7 linked regions of the Homo sapiens genome follow. The protein of the gene in region 2 interacts with the protein of the main gene of each other region in a biochemical or structural test. Each region holds a gene or a part of one and is shown on either strand. Other genes may lie near its edges.

The links.
Region 1: the proteins of PLCG1 (region 2) and ERBB4 form a complex in vitro, tested with the Homo sapiens proteins (one large-scale study listed by BioGRID).
Region 3: the proteins of PLCG1 (region 2) and CD244 interact in a biophysical measurement, tested with the Homo sapiens proteins (one study listed by IntAct).
Region 4: the proteins of PLCG1 (region 2) and NPM1 form a complex in vitro, tested with the Homo sapiens proteins (one study listed by BioGRID).
Region 5: the proteins of PLCG1 (region 2) and PLD2 form a complex in vitro, tested with the Homo sapiens proteins (one study listed by BioGRID).
Region 6: the proteins of PLCG1 (region 2) and FLT1 form a complex in vitro, tested with the Homo sapiens proteins (one study listed by BioGRID).
Region 7: the proteins of PLCG1 (region 2) and RHOA form a complex in vitro, tested with the Homo sapiens proteins (one study listed by BioGRID).

What each region holds. Positions count from the first base shown.
Region 1 is NC_000002.12:212,532,303-212,535,802, forward strand, and holds part of ERBB4 (receptor tyrosine-protein kinase erbB-4 isoform JM-a/CYT-1 precursor), read right to left. Parts: intron 1-3,500. UniProt on the Homo sapiens protein: Tyrosine-protein kinase that plays an essential role as cell surface receptor for neuregulins and EGF family members and regulates development of the heart, the central nervous system and the mammary gland, gene transcription, cell proliferation, differentiation, migration and apoptosis.
Region 2 is NC_000020.11:41,161,543-41,165,042, reverse strand, and holds part of PLCG1 (1-phosphatidylinositol 4,5-bisphosphate phosphodiesterase gamma-1), read right to left. Parts: intron 2,592-3,500; coding exon 2,507-2,591; intron 2,402-2,506; coding exon 2,318-2,401; intron 2,086-2,317; coding exon 2,051-2,085; intron 1,841-2,050; coding exon 1,768-1,840; intron 1,666-1,767; coding exon 1,564-1,665; intron 1,329-1,563; coding exon 1,210-1,328; intron 1,123-1,209; coding exon 1,037-1,122; intron 963-1,036; coding exon 842-962; intron 111-841; coding exon 1-110. UniProt on the Homo sapiens protein: Mediates the production of the second messenger molecules diacylglycerol (DAG) and inositol 1,4,5-trisphosphate (IP3). Plays an important role in the regulation of intracellular signaling cascades.
Region 3 is NC_000001.11:160,852,888-160,856,387, reverse strand, and holds part of CD244 (natural killer cell receptor 2B4 isoform 1 precursor), read left to right. Parts: intron 1-3,500. UniProt on the Homo sapiens protein: Heterophilic receptor of the signaling lymphocytic activation molecule (SLAM) family; its ligand is CD48.
Region 4 is NC_000005.10:171,397,849-171,401,348, forward strand, and holds part of NPM1 (nucleophosmin), read left to right. Parts: intron 1-2,304; coding exon 2,305-2,362; intron 2,363-2,990; coding exon 2,991-3,077; intron 3,078-3,500. UniProt on the Homo sapiens protein: Involved in diverse cellular processes such as ribosome biogenesis, centrosome duplication, protein chaperoning, histone assembly, cell proliferation, and regulation of tumor suppressors p53/TP53 and ARF.
Region 5 is NC_000017.11:4,817,152-4,820,540, reverse strand, and holds part of PLD2 (phospholipase D2), read right to left. Parts: coding exon 3,282-3,389; intron 2,540-3,281; coding exon 2,435-2,539; intron 2,245-2,434; coding exon 2,156-2,244; intron 2,048-2,155; coding exon 1,934-2,047; intron 1,768-1,933; coding exon 1,718-1,767; intron 1,458-1,717; coding exon 1,323-1,457; intron 1,113-1,322; coding exon 959-1,112; intron 1-958.
Region 6 is NC_000013.11:28,488,629-28,492,128, forward strand, and holds part of FLT1 (vascular endothelial growth factor receptor 1 isoform 1 precursor), read right to left. Parts: intron 1-3,500. UniProt on the Homo sapiens protein: Tyrosine-protein kinase that acts as a cell-surface receptor for VEGFA, VEGFB and PGF, and plays an essential role in the development of embryonic vasculature, the regulation of angiogenesis, cell survival, cell migration, macrophage function, chemotaxis, and cancer cell invasion.
Region 7 is NC_000003.12:49,363,477-49,366,976, reverse strand, and holds part of RHOA (transforming protein RhoA isoform 1 precursor), read left to right. Parts: intron 1-3,500. UniProt on the Homo sapiens protein: Small GTPase which cycles between an active GTP-bound and an inactive GDP-bound state.

The sequences.
Region 1 (3,500 bases), on a different chromosome or scaffold from region 2:
GTGAAAGGAAAGTGAGGGAATGTCAACGGCAGGGGCCTCAAAGCTGCCTCCTCCCTGCAGCTTAACTACACAGCTCTCTTTTTATTTTACCCTTTCAGCTGTTTTAGAAACTAGGGCTATGCCTATGACTTCACTTGGAACAACAACAACAAAAAAGAGGTCCACTTACAAAAATAATTAAAAACCAATAAACTTTTTTTCTAAAAAGTCTAAACTTTCCATTTCTAATTAATTGAATTATTAAAAACATTCAAGATGTTAATAGCTTAGGCATGACTTTTAGCTACACTAATAAAGGTAAGGCGATTGAGACAGAAGCAAGTAGTCTAATCCCAGATCACATAACAAATGATTGTATGACCAGAATCCAAACCTCCTAACTTTTAGTGCTTTATTCGCTAGCATCACACAATAGCAAGGCTGTTGCTGTACTACCCACAGCTAAGGCATGCACTATTCCTATTAAAGTCTATGTGGCTGCTGCCCCCTGGAGTTGTGCAAAGTGACAGGCCTGCAGAACAATTCAAAATGGAAATAACTCTAAAACAATTATTACATGCTACATAGCCTCTTTAGAATTAGTTAACAAAACATCCACATATTTCAACTCCATATTGTAAAAGGGACAGCTTTCCTCTCTTGAAAAGTTTGTATAAATATAAAGCACTAGTTTAAGTATCAAGTGTGAAAACAAGGAAGTGGCCTTAAATCTTGATTACAGAATTGGAAAATACGGCAATTTATTTAATAAATATTTCAGAATAACCAACAACTCAGAAAAAATAAAAGAGACCATAGAACAATTCTGAAAATAATATTTTGGGGAAATTGCCCTCAAATACAAATGCCTTTGAGTTAATAAGCTCTTTATTTCATTAGACAGGTACTCTTTTGATAGAGACAGTTTGCTAGAAAGTTTACATTATGTTTCTTAATATAGGTATACATGTTTTAGATTACATGTGCAATTTAGATTACATCTATAAAAACAATTTAGTGGAATGTATCTCAATATCAAAGACTTTAAAGTTATTTTCATAAAACTGTACAGTGCAGAAATAGTGCATTATATGCATTTCTCTCCCAGGCAGAGAAGCCAAGTCACAAAGAGATGCAGTGAGTTGCTGAAGGTATTAAGAAACTCGAGAACTGTCTCTGCAAGGTAGAAATCCTGATTTAAACAATGTGACTACGTCCCATGTCCCATTTAACCACAAAATAGGCAATTAAAGTCTCCCTCAAATTATGTTGAAGACATACAGTTTCAGGAAACATTGACCTACAATTTTTTCATAAAAAGGGGTTATTTTTCATTATAAACTGAAAACTCCAGTCAATAGCTGTATTAGAAATCATAAAAAGTAAGGTTTTAACTCTGACTGCCAATATTTATAATACTTCAGAAAATGAGTATTAGATAAAACATGTAATTTGGTTCCATATGGTGAAATGTAACATAATAGAGCATCTCTAAAATGATATAACCTGGAGAAAAGTTGTTAATATGATTAAATTCTACCCTGCACAGGATACTCAGTAGATCACTGTAAAAGATAACAGTGGAATATGCTTGGTGATTAATTTCTGTAGAACAGATGTAGGCTTGAACCTCTAAAAACTAATTTCAGTACAAATATTAGCATCTCAACAAAGCAGTATCTCTCAAAACTGGTAAAATTAAACAGAGCAAGTACCAACAAGTTTGTAGGTATCAGAAAATCCGTTTTGATCATTTATTTCATTTATGTTTTAGGCACTTACAAACTATACATGGATATCCAACAGTAGCAGAACACTATAATATAAAGCCAAAACTTATGGCTATTTTTAAGAACATGTTAACTTTTCCTAATAACCAGCTTGATATAACACAAAAATAATACCGCTTTAAAGCATTGCAATGTTTAAGCCATCCTAATTCAATTTATTGTCTAAAATATGCACTGTGCATAGCCATTAATCTCAAGGTGGCTCTAATCAAGCTTCCAAGAGTACTTAGAAAGAGCACAATTCATTGCCTCACTAGCATTTTTTAAATAGCAGTGGTCCACCTTCCTTCCTTGGTCAAGAGGGGAAAAGAAAGAAAGAAAAAGGGTAAGAGGGACTTCTCTGTGGAAAGGTTTGGCCTTGGAGTCAAGGCTTTTAAGATGTGCCAGTGATCTTGGATCGATGCCTTTTTATTTTCTTTCAGGAATAAATCTGAGCAATGGAATGGCTTGTGATTGTCTGGCCAACCAGCCATATCAGATTTATCAGAAAGAATGAAAACTGGCTCAGAGGACTCCTGCAGTGGCTGAGTGGCAGGTTACTGGGAAAGACACAAACAAAAACAATATACTTAGTGGCGGAAGGGAAAATATATATTAACACATGTAAACTCAATAAATACTAAGATGTAAAGAGAGAATCTATAGTAACAGAAAGGGTGAATGCATAAGACAGATGATAAATAGTACTTCTATTTAAAAACCAAAGGGATGAAAGCTCATGAATACTACATATTTGAATCCACTTTGAGGAGGAAATACGATTTTCCATCAAATAAATGCAAACTCTAAAAATCAGCCAATGCAAACTTACTGTGTTCAGGTTAGAATAAAAAATGCATAAATCTTCCACAAAGTTCATGCTCTGATAAATATTCTAATGTAATTTCTTAATTAAGACACATTTCCAGTGACTAAATGAAAATATATATATAAAGCAGTAAGTGCCTTGATTTTCAACAAAATTTCACTTTCTATGCATACATGATTAAAATAAATAAAAGCAGTTGAGTTTAAGAGCAAAAAAAAGGAATACTGATATAACTGGAGTCATTTCATCACAACAGAACAGTTATAGTATTTCCAAGCGATTTGCAGTTATACTAACAGATATTTATTTAGACATATTGTGAAGAAAAAAATAACACCTTCTTCTAAAAAGCCCCCTTTTATATATATATATATGAGAATTTCAAATTAAAAAGAAAACATTGTACCGATAGATGTGCTTACAGTAAACACTTGTAAGAAAGAGAATTGATGCTTTCTTGAAAATATATTTAACACCTTTTTCACCACTTAACTTTTATTAACATTTTTCTTCTCAAATGAAAAATAACCCCATGATTTTGGAGATATAATGATGTATCTTAAATATGTACGAAAGCTATATGTACTTTTATAGAATGAAAAGCAAGACTGAGTTACCTGCAAAAAAGAAATGGGAACTGAACTTGTTCATCGTTTATCTACTAAGGTATATAAGAGTACCACCTCAATGCTACTATACATTTTCTTCAATACCAAGGCAATATTGATAATTTTCCATTATACAAGGAAGACGAATTTTAGAACCATTCCTTTGGTTAGCAAAGGCTTTATAATTGCCATATAAAGGGACTTTGGCTATATCTAGATATATCTAAATAAAATGCATAATTGAAAATGAGACAAAGTCCTTTAGAATTTCTAAAAAACATCCTCTCTAATGCTGAATTTTTTTCCAAGCAAAAG
Region 2 (3,500 bases):
CCACGGGCTTGGTGAGGAGTGTGTCCCCCAGCACCTTCTTGAAGTATTGGGCCATGTTTCTCTGCTGGGCAATGCTGCAGTGGTCCTCAATGGACAGGATGACTGGGTACCTGCGGGATGGGGGACAAGCACAGTGAAACAGATTCTGCAATTCTCTGGGTCTAAGTAGCCCCTCACAGTGAGCTGTTGGAAGCCAAGGGCCTGGGGGCTTCTTGTCTGTAAAAACTATCCCAGAAAAGAGGCAGGCCATAGCCACTGGTGGGGCAGAGAGGGGTTCTACAGCTGTGGCAGCAGTGGAAACCAAAGGGTGGCAACTGATGCAGTCCCGAGCTGGCCCAATTATGGAGGCTGCTCAGCAGTGCAAGAAAAATGTTTCACACCAAAGAGGCCAGGAGAGAGGAGAAGCCTCCAAAGTTAGCTGTTAGAGCCCTGGTGAGCTAAGGGAGACCAGTGACCACAGTTTAAGCAGTAAACAGAATTGAAGGAATGGGACACAGGGAACAGAGACAATCTTCTGGGCTGTGAGGGCAAAGGAGTTGGCAGGACACTGGCCTAAAGAAACCAGGGCATGTTTTCTGAAGATGAGAAGAGCATGTGTTCTACAGTCTAAAGGACCCATGAAGAAGAGAGTGGGCCCAACACGTAGGAAACAGAAAGTGTAACTTGGGAAGCAACAGCTCAAGCAGGGAGCAGGTGACGAGGAGAGGCCAAGAGGAAGGACAAAGATGAAAGGCTGAGGGAGAGGGGACAGGGCATTTGAGGAGTCTTTCTGCCCTCTGTCCCTCTAGAACGAGAGACCTGGAGCCAAGTTAACCCCTGGGTCATCCAGCCTCCGACTCACTCTGAGGCCACAAAGGCATGCTCCTTGATGGTGTGCAGGACATCTGAGAACTTGATCTTGGTGGTAAGGGTGTGCCCATGGTAAATAACTGGCATCCCATCCGGGCCGTCCCAGCAGTCCACTGGGGAGCAACATCACCATGGTCAAGCGGGCAGGCCTCCCATCTTCCCTCCCCCAGCCCTGGACCCCACGCACACTCAATGCAGCGACAGCCCATCCGCAGGCAGCGAGCATAGGCTTCCAAGGAGGACTCACTGGAGAACTGGTCCCCGGTCAGGTACCTGGATAGGCAAGGAGAGGCAGGTAGGTATGGTCAGATGGGCCCTCCTGGGGAAGAAGCTGGGTGGGCCTGAAGGAGCCACACTCACGTGTTGTGCGAGGAGGAGATCCAGTAGTGGGAAAGAGGGTTGTTCATGGTGTCCGGGCATACTGCATCCAGCTGCGAGTTCCACACACTGTTCTCTTTGGAGAACAGGAAGGTGACAAACTGTCCAGAAACATGTGGAAGGGAAGAGACAGTGAGTCCCTGCCCTGTCCAACCCAAGATGGTAGGTTGGGGGTAGGAGAGAGAGTGCTCTGTCCCAACTGGGGGTGGGCAAGGTGCACAGTAGGTAGAAACAAGGTGGCATCCCTAAGGAGCGTCTAGCTCCTGGAGCCCGGGTGGGGTCCTGGTCACCCCTACTCATTCTCTTGACAAAAAATGGGTGAAACATCGGGCTCACCTCATCCAGGAAGAAGTATGGCTCCTCGATCTCTCGTAAGGGGTCTCGGAGGAAGCTGAGCATGAACTCCTGCACCTGGAGGCGATCAACAGCCCACAGCTCCTGATGGGGTAGGGAGGGCAGGGGATGAGAGAAGCCTCCAGTCAGGGATGAGCCCAGCCCCCCACAACCTACCAGCCTGGGCCAATGTCAGCCCAGCCATACCCCCTGGTAGTCAAGAAGGAACTGCTGGAACTCAGGAAGGGACACTCGGCAAAGCTCCGGCCGCTCCCCAGCCCTGCAGGGAGAGAAGGTAAGCTAGCTAGTATGGTCAACAGACAACAAGGTGCCCCACGGAAGGCAGAACCCAACTCCCAGCCAGCACAGCTTCCCAGAATGGTCCAGCATGGTTCCCTACTCCCACTGCCTCCCACCTGGATCAAGAATCGCCCAGTGGAGAGATGAAGGGGGCCCAGGGAAAACCCCACCTCCCCACTCCAAACCAAACCTCAGAGTACTGGCTTCCAAGAAGGGGAGGTCCATCTGCAGGAAACAGAACCTGGTCAGGGCAAGACCCCTGGGAGGCCATGTGGGAAATGGGCTAGTAAGAAGGCAGGCTAGAGCAGCAGATGGGGGCAGGCCTCAAGAGGAGAAGAACTGGAGAAATGGCACCCAAAAGCCCCTAAGCAGGGCAGCAGGGCTGAGGCAGGCAGAGCTGGGGTGTGGGGTGGAAGAGCAGGGGCAGGGGTTGAGGGAGGGCAGGTGGCTCATGCACCGTCTTCTGGGCGCTGTACATGAGGCTGCGGTACAGCTGAGCAAACTGCCCGTAGGTGATGTCCCCGCTGCGCTGCTCCAGGTCCTGCATGGTATAGAGCAGGAGTGCCAGTCAGGCAGTCAGGCCCCCAGCTGAAGGGCTCTTGGCTTCCCCTGCCCCCATCTACAGACAGCCCTGGGTGGCACTTACCGTCAGCCGCTCTCGGAGGAAGCGCATGTTGGGGACCCGGTAGTTGACCTGGGACAGCATGTTCTTCAGGTCCTTGGCTGATATACTGAGAAAACAGGGACATCCCCAGTGGTCTCATCCAGCTTCTCATGACCTCTGACCTGTGGGTCGAGCCCACCTGGGGCTGGACAGGTAAACAACACTATTCTGGGAACCTGGAGGCCTGAGGGCAAGACTGGATCAGAACCCATGGGGTGAGGTTAGTCCCTTCCTTTCTTTGGACCTCAGTTCCTCATCTGAGCAAAAAAAAAAAAAAAAAAAACAAAAACAAAACAAACAAAAAAAACCTGTAATTCTGGCAAGGAAGATGTGAACAGATTCAGTAAAGTGGGTCAGGCATGGGAGGAAGAAAAACCACACTCCAGGCCTCCCCTCCTACCGGCACTGCTGAGGCCTGTGCCAAGGTGGCAGTCAGCCTATCCAAGACAGAAGGCAGGGCTCACTCACAACTTCCCTGTTGGGGGCAGCATGGCAGCAGGTCCCTACCTGCTGCCCACTGGGATGCTGGGAGTTTGGTCCTCAGAACCCACTAACCCATGAGAGGGAGGAAGGAGGAGGTGCATGCTCCACCAAATACAATGACTGGCAACTGGGCACCTCCTGGGGCTAGACAGGGCCTGGCTCCAGGAAAGAAACTGAGAGAACAAGCGCCCCTGCTCTCCAGGGGTGTCCTGCCCAGGATGTGAGGCTGGGGACACTGCTGGACCTGGCAACAGGATGGACAAGAAGGGGGAAGGGGGGGGCTTTCTCTCCTGGAAGGTGGTGTCAAGGAGGGGAGGGGAGGGTGGGACCACCTCCTCTGGGCCCCAAGAGCCTGGGAGGAGGCACCAAAATTCCCCGAGGGGGCTGAGCGCCACACTGAGTGGATCAAGCACTGCGGAGGGAGGGCTGGCTCTATATAGGCGCCCCCTCCTCTGATCCTCAGTCACCCAGGAGGTAGGTGCTATCAGGGTCC
Region 3 (3,500 bases), on a different chromosome or scaffold from region 2:
GAGAAACAATATCACATATGAGATGATTTGGTTAACTGATGCAAAGAGTGGGACTTGGGCTAGGTGAGTTTTGACAGAGGTAAGGGAGTTGCATTGCCTGAGGAAGAGAGTTAATATGGTCAGTATGAAGCTAAATAGAGAGGAAGAAAGAAATGGGATGTGGGCCCTATAGGATACTTTATCTATCTTATGATTTTGCCCTGACTAGAGCTGGATTGCCCCAGTACTTTTGGAATCTCACTGGACTCTGTTCACTTAGTCCCCAGCAGGTACATCTTTTGATGCCTTCACCCCAAGCCTGGTAGCACAAGCCCTAGCTGAGAAAACCTTAACATCTATTTGTTGGCTGGTGGAAATTCCACTTGCTCTGAGACCCTCCCGTGCTCCTTCTCCCAGGTGCTCAGGCCCCACACCTTCCTCCGACTGGCAGGTCCAGGTTGGAGGAAGCTGAGCTGACTCAGAGCTCTGCACATGGGCTCAGGGCTGAGCGGGACTCACTGCTGGATCAGATTGTCTCCTTCACCATCCTCTGTACTTGTCTCCTTGACCATCCTCTGTTCTTCCTGAGGCTGCAGTGGAGTTAATCATCTGCCCTCTGCCCTCCCTTTCAGAGTTACTAGTTCACCTCATCCGTTCTTAACCACAGGAAGGTGGCCCCCAAAGCTGCTGAGCAGTAGCAACAGCAGTGGCAGGGGCCCGGGGGCCTTCCTGGACTGTGGCCTCTTTCCTCTAAACAATTTTCACTTGTTGGGTCCTCCTCTATGCCTCACTAAATGTGTGAGAACTTGTGTTGAAGTTATGTTTTCGTAGTAGCATTTCATCTCCCCTATCTGGTGTGTGTACCCCTCTGGGACAGAAACTGAGGTCTTTCTGTATCAGTCACAATACCCTGGACATAGTGACTTGTCTACTTGCCTTTTCACCGTATCTGCTTTGCACCCCTGCCCTGGCACCCACCCCTTCCAGGCCGTCCATGGAAACTCATTCCAACCATCTTCCTCCTTCCCACACTGGACTGTTGGGGGCTGCAGGAGAAAATTCAGCAACAAAGAGCAGCTACAGATTCGTAATCTCCAACCCCAGCTGGACTCTCAGTGTCCTGGGAATCCTCATTTCTGGCCCACAGCTTCTCCTGTTCCCCAAAAGGTGGGAGAATTCCACACCTTCGTCATCTCTTTCAAGGCCCTGTTCCACTATCTCAGCCTCCACAAACCAACAACCTCCTTCTTTAAGAAAACAGAAGCACAAGTTAGGGATTCCACCAACCTTGCCAACAAGTCTCCAGTGTCAATGTACTTCATCTACTCCTGTAAATGGCCACATTTGCCTCTGCTGAGGGCAAGAGTGTTCTTGCCCTGTCCTTGACCAATACTCCCCTGTGTGCTCAGGGCACCAGAGCTTCTTTCAGAAGTCACCTGGGACCTGCTGTCTGTGAAGACATCCCTCATCTTTCTTCAGCTGCTCCTTTTCTGTGGGCTTCCTACCTTTAGTACAGTTTCCTTCCAGTTGAAAAATCAAAACAACACCTGGTGTTCTCTCTAGCTCCTTTTTATTTGCAGACAAACCAGTCTTAAATGTATAAACTAATATAATATTACATAAAAATAAAATATAACGGCCTAATTTTTAAAAAGACCCCAAAGGCAGTATAGCATGAGGACTGTAGATCACACATTTCATTCTTTAAGTATTTAGAAGTCTATGGCTGGGAGTGGTGGCTCACGCCAGAACTTTGGGAGGCTGAGACGGGTGGATTACTTGAGGTCAGGAGTTCAAGACCAGCCTGGCCAATATGGCGAAACCCTGTCTCTACTAAAAATACAAAAAAAAAAAAAAGAATAGCTGGGGGTGGTGGCAGGCACCTGTAGTCCCAGTTACTCATGAGGCTGAGACAGGAGAATCACTTGAACCTGGGAGGCAGAGATTGCAGTGAGCCGAGATCATGCCACTGCACACCAGTCTGGGTGACAGAGCGAGACTCTGTCTTAAAACAAACAAACAAACAAAGAAGTCTAGACAATAACTTAACCATTTTCCTGTGTGATTCCTATTCAGTTTTATAATAGCAGAGAACAACCTTCTTCTACATAGCGCTCTACATTCTGATCTACTGGTGGATTATATGGGAGTTTACGTTATTTTTCATTACACCGTATATTTATATTTAAGTACCTTTTAATACTTGTGCTACCTCTCACAATTTTATAAAAGATAAAAATAAAGTGAAACCACCACTAAACACCTGAAAATTAAACTCATGTTCCATCACCCCATTCTCCAAACCTGCTCCATCTTTACCAGACCCATAAGCCACACGTGTGTTTTGTGTTCCCTTAACCATGCTACTGCTGGGTCCATAATACCCACCTTCCCTGTTCCTTTCTGCATACACCAGGCAGGCCTTGGCTTTTTCTTTCAATGGCAGCTCCCACCCACCGCCTCTGGGCAGCCACTCCTAACTCTGCAGGGCAGAGGAAAACATGCTTTCCTTATGCTTGCCTCACACCCTGGGCACACCTCCATAGCACATTCCATATTGCATTTCAGTTGGCTGTTTTAGGTCTATCTTCCTTTTTCACTTTTTTTTTTTTTTTTTTTTTTTTTTAGGCAGGGTCTTGCTCTGTCACCCAGGCTGGGGTGCAGTGGTGCAGTCATGGCTCACTGCAACCCCTGCCTCCCAGGCTTTTCTGATATTTAGCTAAGAGTTGGGTTTAGCTGAGATGAGTGAGGAAATCTACAAATTCACTTGCTATGGTAATGTTTCCACAATGGGCAAGTCATATTTTGCTTTTATCAAAGTACATCTTAGTTAATAGTCAGAACAGTTGAGTGAGAGGTAGTCATTACTCTTTTTCTGCTTTTTTACCAAGATACAACTCACAGCTGTGTGCACAAAATTTAAATCAACAGCTTGATGAACTTTTATATGTGTAAGTACATATCAAAACTACCCACATCAAGATGTAACACATTTCTAGCACCCAGTCATTCCTTTTTGGCCCTTCAAGTTGATAACCCCCCTCCTGCAAGGGTAATCACATTCTAACCTCTCTCACCATATATTAGTTTTTCCAGATTTTAAACTTTATATCAGTGAAATAATTCACTATGTACTTTTTGGAGTCTAGCTTCATTAATACTCATCATTGTGGTGAGATCCATCCACATTATTGCCAGGAAAAGTAGCTTTTCTTTTTCATTGCTGTGTAATATTCCTTATAAGACTATAACACGATTTATTTGCTCATCTAATCGTGATAGACATTTGGGTTTTTTCTCATTTTGAGTTATTATGACTAAAGCCATTATTAACACTCTTGTACATATTTTTAGTGGATATAAACACCAGATTTTCTTTTTTTTTGAGACGGAGTTTCACTCTTGTTGCCCAGGCTGGAGTGCAATGGCATGATCTTGGCTCACTGCAACCTCCGCCTCTCAGATTTAAGTGATTCTCCTGCTTCAGTCTTCCAAGTAGCTGGGATTACAGGTGTGCACTG
Region 4 (3,500 bases), on a different chromosome or scaffold from region 2:
AGTGATGTGATCTTGGCTCACTGCAACCTCCTCCTCCCTTGTTCAAGCAATTCTTCTGCCTCTCCCAAGTAGTTGGGATTACAGGCACCCCCCCCACCACGCCCGGCTAATTTTCTGTATTTTAAATAGAGACCGGGTTTCGCCATGTTGGCCAGGCTGGTCTTGAACTCCTGAGGTCAGGCCCGCCTCGGCCTCCCACAAGTGCTGGGATTACAGGCGTGAGCCACTGCACTGGGCCCAAGAATTCTTTATGTATTCTGCAAACAAGTCCCTTATCAGACACAAGATTTACAGATTATCTTCCACCATTCCGTGAATTGTTACTTAACTTTCATGATGGTGGCCTTTGAACAAGTTTTTAATTTTTATGACGTCCGATTTCTTTTGTTGCTTGTGCCTTTGGTGTCAATCCTAAGAAATCATTGCTAAATTCAAAGTTGTGAAAATTTGCCCCCTTAATTCTGAGTTTTGTCCTTTATATTTAGGGCTTTGTTCCATTTTGAGTAAACTTATGTGTATGGTGTGAATGGAGGGGTCTAAATATAGACTTTGGATGTAGATTAGCAGTTGCCCCAACATGATTTGTTCAAAAACTATTTTTTCCCCATTGAATGATCTTGGCAACCTTTAAAAGAGTCACTTATGGCTGGGTGTGGTGGCTCACACCTGTAATCCCGGCACTTTGAGAGGCTGAGGCAGGCGGATCATGACCAGGAGATTGAGACTATCCTGGCCAATTTGGTGAAACCCTGTCTCTACTAAAAATACAAATTTTAGCTGGGCATGGTAGCGTGTGCCTGTAGTCCCAGCTACTCAGGAGGCTGAGGCTGGAGAATTCGCTTGAACCTGGGAGGCAGAGGTTGCAGTGATCTGAGATTGCACCACTGCACTCCAGCCTGGCGACAGAGCGAGACTCCGCCTCAAAAAACAAAAAAATCACTGTTTCTGGACTGTTCTGTTGATGTGTCTATCCTTAACATGTAAGAACAGTACAACACTGTTCCTCTGTGGTTTTTATTTATTTATTTTTTTGAAATGAGTCTCACTGTCACCCAGGCTGTAGCACAGTGGCGTGATCTTGGCTCACTGCAACCTCCGCCTCCTGGTTCCTCCTGCTTCAGCTTCCTGAGTAGCTGGGATTACAGGCGCCCGCCACCATGCCCGGCTAATTTTTGTATTTTTAGTAGAGACTGGGTTTCCCCATTAGCCAGGCTGGTCTCAAACTCCTGACCTCAGGTGATCTGGCCGTCTCGGCCTCCTAAAAAGTGCCGGGATTACAAGCGTGAGCCACGGTGCCTTGGCCCCTTTGTAGGTCTTATAGCTGATTTTTTGAAATCAAGTGTGAGTTTTCTAGCTTTCTTCCTTTCCAGATTGCATTTGGCCTCTTTGGGTCCCTTAAGTGTCTTTTTTGTTTTTGTTTTTTGAGATAGGGTCTTGCTCTGTCACCCAGGCTGGAGTGCAGTGGCAGAATTACACAGTTACAGTTCACTGTCTCAAGCAGATCCTCCTGCCTTAGCTTTTCAAATAGCTAGGACTACAGGCGCACACCACCACGCCTGCTAATTAAAAATTTTTTTTGTAGAGAGGGTTCTCATTATGTTGCCTAGGCTGGTCTTGAACTAAAACGATCCTCCCACCTCAGCCTCCCAAAGTGTTAGGATTATAGGTGTGAGACACTGTGCCAGTTCTTGGGTTTGTTTATAAATTTTAGGATCTGTTTCTACAGAGAAACCAGCTTGGGGAGTCTTCTAACGATTGTATTTAACCTGTATATTCGGGGAGTGTTTCCATCTTGGCAATATCTGAACATGGAATGTTTCTATTTAGGTCTTTAATTTTTTTTTTTAACACAAATTCACTCTGAGTGTACAGTTTAATAGAACTATACATTACTTAAATATACATACATTATACAGTGGTATAGTGTGTATTTATGCAAAACTACTCATTGAGCAACTTCATTTCCCAGCCCCTAGCGATCACAATTATACCTTCTATTTCTTTGAGTTTGACTACTTTTAGATACTTAATGAATAGAATCATACAGTGTTTGTTCTTTTGTGGCTGGCTTATTTCACTTTGTTCAAGGTTCAGTCATGTAGCATGCAAGAGGATTTTCATTGTGTGTACATATACATTTTCATTTAGTCATTTAACACTTGGGTTGCTTTCACCTCTTGGCTGTTGTGAACAATGCTTCGATAAACATGGGTGCACAAATAATCACTTCAAGGTCCTGCTTTCAATTCTTGTGTCTACTCCCAAATTTTGAAAGTGCTTAATGTCTTGACATTTCATTTGTAGTGATGATGATGATGATTTTGATGATGAGGAAGCTGAAGAAAAAGCGCCAGTGAAGAAAGTGAGTAGATACAATGCTACAAGGTTGTTAAACTAACAATAGAAATGGTGATTTTTTAGTGCTATTTGCTTGTTTTGTAGTTAAGGGAAGCTGGTGTGGGAGATCATCTCATACTGAAAATTAGTCCTGAGGAGGATTACAGAAAACTTAAGAGTGGGGAATGGTCTGTTTTCTTTATCCATGTGGCCCTCCACCCAGTTTGTTAGTCTTGTGTAACCTTTTGTCCAAGTGGTTGCTGCTTTTTCCTTCCTTTTTTTTTTTTTTTTGAGACGGAGTCTCAATGTCACCCGGGCTGGAGTACAGTGGCGCGATCTCAGCTCACTGCAACTTCTGCCTCCCGGGTTGAAGCGATTCTCCTGCCTCAGCCTCCTGAGTAGCTGGAATTACAGACTCATGCCACCACACCCAGCTAATTTTTGCATTTTTAGTAGACCACCATGTCGGCCAGGCTGGTCTCGAACTCCTGACCTCGTGATCCACCTGCCTCGGCCTCCCAAAGTCCTGGGATTACAGGCATGAGCCACCACGCCAAGCCTGTGGTTGCTGCTTGTCTTACATGGCTTGGACAGCTTTGTTTGCACTGTTGTTGGGGTCAGGGACAGTGATTAAGATAAATTTCTAATTGCAGTCTATACGAGATACTCCAGCCAAAAATGCACAAAAGTCAAATCAGAATGGAAAAGACTCAAAACCATCATCAACACCAAGATCAAAAGTAAGTGGCTACATTTACACGTGGGTCTCATTGATCTAGTTGGGGAAAAAGATTCTACTGTGGAAGAATCTAGTGTGTCTGAAATTTGATAGGCCTTTATAGAACCCCTGTAATTGCTGTTTAAAAGTTAAAATCAGCTTGCTGCAGCCAGGCTCAGTGGCTCACTCCTGTAATCCCAGCACTTTGGGAGGGAGGCCAAGGTGGGTGGGATCACCTGAGGTCAGGAGTTTGAGACTAGCCCGGCCAACATCGTGAAACCCTGTCTTTACTAAAAACACAAAAATTAGCCAGGCATGGTGGTATGTGCCTGTAATTCCACCTACTCAGGAGGTGGAGACAGGAGAATTGCTTGAACCTGGGAGGTGGAGTGCAGTGAGATTGCACCACTGCACTCCAGCTTGGGCAAAAGAGCGAGACTCCGCC
Region 5 (3,389 bases), on a different chromosome or scaffold from region 2:
TCATGCCTGTAATCCCAGCACTTTGGGAGGCCGAAGCCTGAGGTCAGGAGTTCAAGATCAGCCTGGCCAACACAGCGAAACCCTGTCTCTACTAAAAATACAAAAATTAGCTGGGCGTGGTGGTGGGCGCCTGTAATCCCAGCTACTCCGGAGGCTGAGGCAGAAGAATTGCTTGAACCCAGGAGGCGGAGGTTGCAGTGAGCCAGGATCGTGCCATTGCACTCCAGCCTGGGCGACAAGAGTGAAACCGTGTCTCAACAACAACAACAACAACAACAAAAAAGATTTCTTTTTCGTGGCCAGGTGCAGTGGCTCACGCCTGTAATCCCAGCACTTTGGAATGCTGAAGTGGGTGGATCACCTGAGGTCGGGAGTTCGAGACCAGCCTGACCAACACGGCGAAACCCCATCTCTACTAAAAATACAAAATTAGCTGGGCGTGGTGGCGCATGCCTGTAATCCCAGCTACTCGGGAGGCTGAGGCAGGAGAATCGCTTGAACCCAGGGCAGAGGTTGCAGTGAGCTGAGATCTCGCCATTGCACTCCAGCCTGGGCAACAAGAGCAAAACTCCGTCTCAAAAAAAAAAGATTTTTTTCTCTTTTTGTTTTTTGGTGTTCCTGCTTTACTGATACTCTAAACTGATTAGTCCTAGTAGCTGGGATCACAGGCGCCCGCCACCACACCCAGCTGATTTTTTGTATTTTTAGTAGAGACGGGTTTCACTATGTTAGCCAGGCTGGTCTCAAAATCCTGACCTCAGGCAATCCACCCGCCTTGGCCTCCCAAAGTGCTGGGATTAGAGGCGTGAGCTGCCGCGCCCAGCCTTGCCTATTGAGAATCTAGTACTGCCTCTACCTCTGGCTCCGGGAGTACCTATGCGGTGCTACCTCTTGTCCTGCTCAAAAGGCAGACGCCCCCATCTCCCTCCCACCCTGTGGCATCCCGCCCCAGCTCTACCCGAAGCAGTGCTTCCGCAGACTCAAGGCAAACCTGCCCGCCTGATACTCTGCCCCATTCATGAGGGATGGTTCCGTCTCTGTGTCCTCGATCAGCACGGCCAGCTCACTGTCCCGCTTCCCCAGCAAGCTCCGGTCATTGATGTTTGCAGAACCTGGGGTGGATGCGGGGCACACTGTGTGCTTGGGCCCAGGGCACTCTCCCCAGTACCCCATCCCCTCTACCAAAGCACTGGCCTGCAACATTCCTTCTTGGACCCTCCACCCCTACACGAGCCTCAGCTGCAGTCTCTGTCATCCTGCCTCTCATCTCTTCGCCTGTCCCCACACCCTCTCCCTGCCAGAGGACTAGATCCGGCACTGACCAATGATGACTGTCCGGTCATCTGCGATGAGCACCTTGCTGTGGATGTAGATGAGCTCCGAGACGGGGTGCCCGCCCAGCTCTCCGTGTGTACGAAGCCCGCAGATGGAAATATAGTCCCGCCATGCTGTCCCCACTGCGTGACAGGAGGGGAAGTGAGGTGAGAGGTGGCTCTGTGTGCACAGGGCCCTGTCCCACCTCCTCTCACTCCAGAAACTCTTCCTACATAGAGTCTGGTCTCTCTCCTTCTCCCTGCAGTGAAAGGCCAGCTATGGTCTGCGTAGCGTCAGAGGCTCACAGGAGTGACAGCCTCCTTCCCCCACCCCCAGGCCTGCAGCGCCCCAATCTCCCTCTCCCAGGGGCCCAGGGCTTGAGCCCCCAGCCCCCAGCACTCACTGGCTGCTTTAAGGCGATGCAGGATTGAATACTCCCCACGACACAGGGTCCTGAGAGAAAAGAAAGAGGGAGAGAAGTGGAGGCTGGCAGAGGGGAGGGGAGGTCAGGAGAGGTGGCCCTTCTTTAAGGCCCAGCAGGAAGGGATCAGGACAGAATCAGGAGGGGGACACGGGTGGGATGGGGCCACTGAGAGCTGGAGTCCGCCTGGGGGGTCACCTGTAAGTAAAGTGCAGAATGGCCTGGATGGAGTTGCCACCGCCCGTGGAGATGTCACCCTCGAAGCCAGGGAGTAAGGGCAAAAGCACGTAGACTCGGTAACACCACCCCTGTCTGGGGAGGGGGTGGAGTCAGAGGTGCGACTGGTCCCTCAAACCCCACCCCCTTCAACCGGGCTCAAACCACACCCACAGTCCCCACCTTCCTGACAGTCCACCTTACTTGTGGGCCTTCAGGATTCTGTCCACAATCTCATCGCCCACCTTGTTCAGAACCGTCCGCCCATCTGAGCAGCTAATGAAGAACTGATTCTGGGGCAAGAATCAGAGACAGACATCAGCAGCCTGGCCCCTGGCCCTGTCCTCGGCCTCCAGCCTTGGTCCCAGGCTCCAGGCGTCTGCTTCTGCTCCACCAGCCCTCAATGACTGACTCCACTCATTCCCCAGGTCTCTCTCCTGGGACACCCCTTCCATGCTCTCCCCCACCTCCTCCCAGTCAGACCTCAATGTAGAGGAAGTGCTGGCTCTCCCTGATGGTGTGCAGGTAGGCATTGAGGATGGAGTTCTCCAGAGTCCCTGCTGACCAGCGGTCCACTGATCGCAAGACCTAGGGAATGGTGAATGCGATGTGCTTCATTTCTTTTCTTTTTTAAGACAGAGTCTCGCTCTGTTGCCTAGGCTGGAGTGCAGTGGCATGATCTCCGCTCACTGCAAGCTCCTCCTCCTGGGTTCACGCCATTCTCCTGCCTCAGCCTCCTAAGTAGCTGGGACTACAGGTACGCACCACCACTCCCGGCTAATTTTTTGTATTTTTAGTAGAGACAGGGTTTCATGGTGTTAGCCAGGATGGTCTTGCTCTCCGGACCTCGTGATCCGCCTGCCTCGGCCTCCCAAAGTGCTGGGATTACAGGCGTAAGCCACTGCGCCTGGCCTTTTATTTTATTTTTGAGATGGAGTCTCACTCTGTTGCCCAGGCTGGAGTGCAGTGGCGTGATCTCAGCTCACTACAACATCCTCCTCCTGGGTTCAAGCGATTCTCCTGCCTTAGCCTCCCTAGTAGCTGGGACTACAGGTACGCACCACCACGCCCGGCTAATTTTTTGTATTTTTAGTAGAGATGGGGTTTCACCATGTTAGCCAGGATGGTCTCGATCTCCGGACCTTGTGATCCGCCTGCCTTGGCCTTCCAAAGTGCTGGGATTATAGGCGTGAGCCACCGTGCCTGGCCGTGATGTGCTTCTTAACCCCAGGAAAGGAGAGTGTGGGCAGCTCTCACACCAGGGAGAGTGGGTTGGGGTGTTAGGCTGAAGGAGACAAAGGGGAGGGCTGGCTGAAGTGGGGGGCCTCACCTGTACGGTGGTGCACTGCCCTCCTGGAAGTGTGAAGGGGAGCTGATTGGCCGTGCTGGTAGACTTGGGAAGCAGGTAGGGGTATGTGGGAGTCTTGTACTTGGCCTT
Region 6 (3,500 bases), on a different chromosome or scaffold from region 2:
GGGATGGGGGTGAGGATAGGGAGGCACCAGCTCGAGCCCAAGCCATGGGATTCCAATTTTTAAGAACATGTCTCGCACCTAGCAGGGTAGTCCTGCCAGGAACCCATTTATATGAAGGGTTGAGGAAACCTCATCCTAAAGAAAGAGGAAGTTAGACAGACCAGTGTGGTCCTGTAACCAAGGCCCCTATTAAAACAGAGTTGATTCTGACTGTGGCCAGACCTCTGTCATTCAGGTATGCATCTCAGCCCAGCACCCAAGGACTTGGGTTTAAGAGAGGGCAAGAAAGTCAAACCCTAAAATTTGAGGACTCTGTTCTCTCTAAAAATTGTATAACACGCTGCAGGAAAAGGCTGAGGTGCTTAGCACCTCACCAACAGAGGCTAACACAGGACTTCTGCAGTGACCAGAGCCTGGCTTTGGTGGCTCACAGGCCCCAGCGAAGCATCATGCCCACACAGGAGGGGAGGACATGAGACAGTTTCTCAAAGAGTTGAAAATCATAGCTGATCTCATACATCTCAATCGCTCACTGAAGAGGACAAATATTATCTGTTGAGAACAGTTACTTTAAGTAATCCCTTGTAAATGAGGCCAAATGAACAGGCAGGAGCACATTACTATACTGGAATAAACTCATGGAATAAATTTGTGTCTGAGATTGCTTCTGCGAAATGATAGTGTGGCCACATATTCATTCATTTACTCATTCGTTCCAACACTTACCGAGAGTCTCTGTACTAGGCTTTATATTAGGTGCCAGCGGTCTAAGGACAGCTAAGACATGGGGTCTCTACCAAAGAGAAAGGACACAGACACATAAAATCCTGACAATGCAAAGTGAGAATTACTGAAGGAGGAGTACACCTCAGGGCTACAGGAGAGCAGAAGAAATGGCAAGTGCTGTCTGGGAGCTACAAGGAGGAGCTCCCAGAGATGGTGATTACTGGGCTGGATCTTGCCAGCAGGAGAGGAGGAGACACAGAGGGAGGGAAAAGGTCTTGCAGGCAGACGAGCAGCATGAACAGAGTGATGAAAGTGAAGGCGCCTCTGAAGAAGGGGGAATAATTTGTTTGACTAGGGTAGAGTTTGTGTAGCTGGAACCCAGTGTGTGTGTGGAGAGAAGTGGCGAAAGACAAAGCTAGTACCATAAGCCACAAGTATGTAAGCCACAGCTGTTCAGGAAAAGGATACCAAGTGCTCGTAAGGAAAGTTAATCTTCTCATCAAATCTCTTGGCATGCTACTAAGCAGCCATCATTTTGATTCTTAGTTTAAACCCCTTATGTGCGTTAAGAAAATAGAAGAAAACTTCATATTAAAAAGATGTCATTTCGAAAGAAATTTTAGCACTGTAATAATGTTAGTCAATAAATATTTGAACATCTGTCTTCCGTCTGGGGAAGAGGAAATACACCAGTGAAGAAGAGATGTTGTCTGTAGCAGGAACATCAGGTTCTGTTCCTAGGCCTGCCGCTAGCCAGCTGTTGACCTTGAAAAACAGCACTGGCCTCCTCTGGGCCGGTTTTCTCATCTCTGGCATGAGTAGATTGGGTCAATGAGGTTCCATCTAGCTCTTACAACGTGTGTGTGTATCTGTGAGACAAGATCAAGTTCCTCAAAGAGCTCAAAATTGAGGAAAGGAGCAGCAATCAGAAACAGCTTTCAGGCATCCAGCTTTACCAAGATGGATGGGAAATCCCCAGGAATTCTTGACATCTCCCCACATCCGCCCCAGCGGCAATGCAGGAAATCTAGTCCACTATCTTCAGCAGACTCAATGCAACTGTTTCCTTAATGAACCCCCCTGCAGCCCCGTGAGCTAAGTCAGAGGCTTTCTTTTCAAGCCCTCCCTCAAATACCCCATTCCTCCAATTTCCTTCCCCTCCCTCAATCTGGTATAAAATCCAGCAATTTAATCAGCAGCATGCAATTTCCACAGCACCCAAGAGTGTGAGGAACCACCAGTGATCCTGGAAAGCATCTGGCAGGAGATCTTGTCATTTCTTACAAGCCTCTCCTATAAACGAAGGCCAATGGAGCAGAATGGACTGTTCGGTTCTACCAAATTGCTTAAACCAAATGCCACAGATGGTCTATACTTTTAACTACTCACAGTAATATATTTTTACTTAAAAAAAAGTCTGGTATGATTTCAAATGCCCTTCCTCCCCTACCTGCAATGACAAATGCACTGAAAAATGATGATATTTACTTGATACCCAACACACCCCTAACTGTGAGATCCAAACCAAGAATTAGACACGCCTGGCCTCTACTAACACCAGCAGGCTTCGCATTTAACATTCACGTGCCAAGATAGCTTCTCTCACTTTTTCTCCATTCTTATCCCCACCCACATACACATATCAGTTTAAAGCACTACAGAAGCTACTTACTCTGTTATTTGTTCTTGTCTTGCCCAACTGCCCAAGCCAGGTCAAATATCAGCCATAACTCTGCTGTGTAGATCTCAATAGGCTGCATAACCTTCCTCGAGGACATTACATTATTTTGGTCAATATGAAACCATTTTTTGGTAACACATCACCTTCAACTTCCATATTAAATAAATTTAAAGTAGACTTAGAAATGTCTCGATCATTTTTGGAAAGAACAAAGTAATTACTTGGTTTGTTTCTTAAAAGTCACGTAAAGTAGACTCAATTTTAAATAAGGGGTTTAGTATCCCTGTTAAAATCTGGAACTTTTTTTAAAAGAATAAAGCCATTCTGTTAATCAAATAAGTGTTAGCTTTAAAAATTCAAGAAATAAATAGGGGTTTAAAATGACTGCTATCCTTAGAAGAGTTAATGCAACTAGAGTTTTGAGGGAGCATCTACTTTATAGAGTTATACATTCTGCTAGTGAAAAAAGCCCAAGATAAAGATGACTGCTGGCTCAGGCATCCTCTACCAGCCCATCTCTTCCAAAACAGCCTATTCAAGGCCAAATTGACTGGCTGTTTAGGTACATGCTACTAAAGAAAAAGAAAGTTTAATGTGATTAGCAGGGGAAACCCAGTTCATCCTAACAGCCCCAGCATCATATGGTTTCTCATCCACTCTATATACAAATATAAATAAGGTGGGGAAGAGAAAAGAGAAAGACAGACACGGTGTTCAGGCCATTTCTTGGAATCATTCATTGAATTTTGGAGTCAGAAAAGGGCCTTAGAAATCAACCACCTATACTAACGTCTTCATTTTACATACGAAAACAAAGTACCCACTTGGTGATCGTTAGAAAAGAAACCAGATAGCCTATTATAGAATGTCCAACAGGGAAATTTTAAAAATGTAACAAAGTGCTAAAATAGTAAGCAACAATATTTGAGGAACTGGAGTAAGTAGTCACCTACAGTTCCTTTGTAACATGATGCTTCAGTTGGAAAACTGTAGGCTGCCAAAGCTCCTAAATAATTAATATTTCGAATATGCAATTTAGACCAAAAAAAAGTGCAGCTTCATAAAACCTTGGAGAAAACAACAAAAATTGTTA
Region 7 (3,500 bases), on a different chromosome or scaffold from region 2:
TTTGTGCTGAAGATGATGAGGTATCTATTAATAAACTTGTGCTGCAGCCCTCCCTGTCATGACAGGGCAGCAGGTGGGTCAAGGATGTTGTCGTCATTACCACAAACAGCCTTTGAGGGTCTGCTTGTGGCCTCGGGTTGCCTGGATAGTTAGTGTTAGAGTGATTGTGTTGTTATGGTTGTCCCTACCTTAATGATGATAACTGGGGTTGCTCCAAGATATTGAGCCACTTGTTTAAGGTCATGCTGGCCCAAGGAGCTGAGCTAAGATTGAGTCCTCTGTGCAGTATGTCCCAGGACAGAGAAAGAGCACGTATTCCATGCCGTTGGTTCACTTAGATCATTTTCAGCAGTTATGATTGATTGATTGATTTAGAGGCGGGGTCTCGCTCTGTTGCCCAGGCTGGAGTTGAGTGGCACAATCTTGGCTCACTGCAACCTCCGCCTTCCAGGTTCAAGCAAATCTCCTGTCTCAGCCTCCCAAGTAGCTTGGACTACAGGCATACGCCCCCACGCCTGGGTGATTTTTGTATTTTTAGTAGAGACCGGGTTTCTCCGTGTTGGCCAGGCTTCTCTCAAACTTCTGACCTCTGGTGATCCACTCACCTTGGCCTCCCAAAGTGCTGGGATTACAGGTGTGAGCCACCACACCCAGCCTAGTTTTGGTTTTCAAACTAATATGACTTCCTTTTGTGAAGCTGCTGGAAGGCCCTGGAGGCTGGGCAGAGCTTTAGGCCACAGAGAAAATTTGAGCTAGTTGACACTCTCCTATCAGATACACACATAAATAACTTCACCTAGATCCTATTGGAATGAGAAGGACTGTGTGCCTTTGCCCTCGTTATCTAGTGTATAATTCTTGAGGGAAAAAACTGCCTCCAGAGCAAAACATTTTGTCTCTTCAGTCTCACTTTTTTCTTTTTGAGACAGGGTCTCGCTTTCTTGCCCAGTCTTGAGTGCAGTTGCAGATTCAGTTTACTGCTGCCTCGACCTCCTGGGCTCAAACAATCCTCCCATCTCAGTCCCCACCCAGTAGTTGGTACTACAGGCACACACTGCTGCGCTTGGTTAATTTTTATATTTTTTAGGCCGGGCATGGTGGCTCACGCCTGTAATCCCAGCACTTCGGGAGGCTGAGGTAGGCGGATCACCTGAGGTCAGGAGTTCGAGACCAGCCTGGCCAACATGGTGAAATCCTGTCGCTACTAAAAATACAAAACTTAGCCAAGTATGGTGGCATGTACCTGTAATCCCAGCTACTCAGGAGGCTGAGGCAGGAGAATTGCTTGAACCTGGGAGGCAGAGGTTGCAGTGAGCCGAGATCGCATCACTGCACTCCAGCCTAGGTGACAGAGTGAGACTCTTGTCTCAAAAAAAAAAAAAAAAAAAGTTTGAAAATTTATTCACCAAAAGTGGCGACAGTCAATTTATTCAAATTCTATGTACCTCAAACTCCAGGAAGGGGGTAGACTATTGGTATAATTTCACATATTCAGGAAATAACTACAGCACCTACTAACAGAACATCTATTCTAGGCCAGGCACTGTGGCTCACACCTGTAATCCCACCACTTTGGGAGGCCAAGGTGGGTGGATCCTGAGGTCAGGAGTTCAAGACCAGCCTGTCCAACATGGTGAATCCCTGTCTCTACTAAAAATACAAAAAAATCATCCGGGCGTGGTGGCGAGTGCCTGTAATCCCAGCTACTCGGGAGGCTGAGGCAGGAGAATTGCTTGAACCCGGGAGGCAGAGGTTGTAGTGAGCTGAGATTGCGCCACTGCGCTCCAGCCTGGGCGACAGAGCAAGAGTCCATCTAAAAAAAAAAAAAAAAAACTTCTGTTCTAGATGAGGGAAGACAGAATAGGCTCCCCTCAATGCCCCCAAAAAAGTAAATCAGAAAATAACAACAGTAAACCCAGTAACAGTAAATATTACAAATAACATTTGTAGAGGTGGGTCATGGTTGTATGCTGTTTTGTTTTATTTATTTTTATTTTTGTTTTTTTGAGACAGACTTTTGCTCTTGTCACGCAGGCTGGAGTGCAATGGTGCGATCTCAGCTCACTGCACTCCGCCTCCCGGGTTCAAGCACTTCTTCTGCCTCAGCCTCCCAAGTAGCTGGGATTACAGGCATGCACCACCATGCCTGACTAATTTTTGTATTATTAGTAGAGACAGGGTTTCAACATGTTGGCCAGACTGGTCTCAAACTCCTGATCCACCTGCCTCGGCCTCCCAAAGTGCTGAGATTACAGGCCTGATGAGCCACTGCACCTGGTCTATTTATTTTTATTTATTTATTTATTTATTTATTTTGAGACGGAGTCTCGCTCTGTCGCCCAGGCTGGAGGGCAGTGGCACGATCTTGGCTCACTGCAACCTCCACCTCCCTGGTTCAAGGAATTTCCCTGCCTCAGCCTCCCTAGTAGCTGGGATTACAGGTGTGCACCACCATGCCCAGTTAATTTTTTTGTTTTGTTTTGTTGTTTTTGAGACGGAGTTTCGCTCTTGTTGCCCAGGCTGGAGTGCAATGGCACGATCTCGGCTCACTGCAACTTCCGCCTCCCGGGTTCAAGCGATTCTCCAGCCTCAGCCTCTCAAGTAGCTGGGATTGCAGGCATGTGCCACCACGCCCAGCTAATTTTGTATTTTTAGTAGAGACGGGGTTTCTCCATGTTGGTTATGCTGGTCTCCCAACTCCCGACCTGAGGTGATCCACCCGCCCCGGCCTTCACAGTGCTGGGATTATAGGCATGAACCACTGCGCCTGGCAATCTTTTTGTATTTTTAATAGAGATGGGGTTTCACCATGTTGGCCAGACTGGTCTCGAACTCCTGACCTAACGCGATCCACCTGCCTCAGCCTCTCAAAGTTTTGGGATTATAGACGTGAGCCACTGCGCCCAGCCTATTTATTTGTTTTTAAGAGATGAAGTCTCACTTTGTCACCCTGGCTGGAGTGCAGTAGTAGCGTGATCATAGCTCACTGCTACCTTGAATCCTGGACTCCAGTGATCCTCCCACCTCAGCCTCTCAAGTAGGTGGGAATGCAGGCACATGTACCACTGTAAACTGCTAAGTTTTTGTATGTTTTTGTGGAGATGGGGTTTTTGACTTTTTTGATACAGAGTCTCACTCTGTTGCCCAGGCTGGAGTGAGTGTAGTATTGCGATCTCGACTCATCACAACCTCCACCTCCTGGGTTCAAGTGTTTCTTCTGCCTCAGCCTCCCAAGTAGCTGGGACTATAGGTGCACACCACTGCGCCCGGCTAATTTTAGTAATTTTAGTAGAGATGAGGTTTCGCCATGTTGGCCAGGCTGGTCTCGAACTCCTGACCTCTGGTGATCCACCCACCTAAGCCTCCCAAAGTGCTGGGATTACAGGCACGAGCCACCACGCTGTCTGGAGATGGGGTTTAGCCATGTTGCATAGGCTGTTCTTGAGCTCCTAGGCCCAAGCTGTCTACTTGCCTTAGCCTCTCAAAAGTGCTGGAATTAC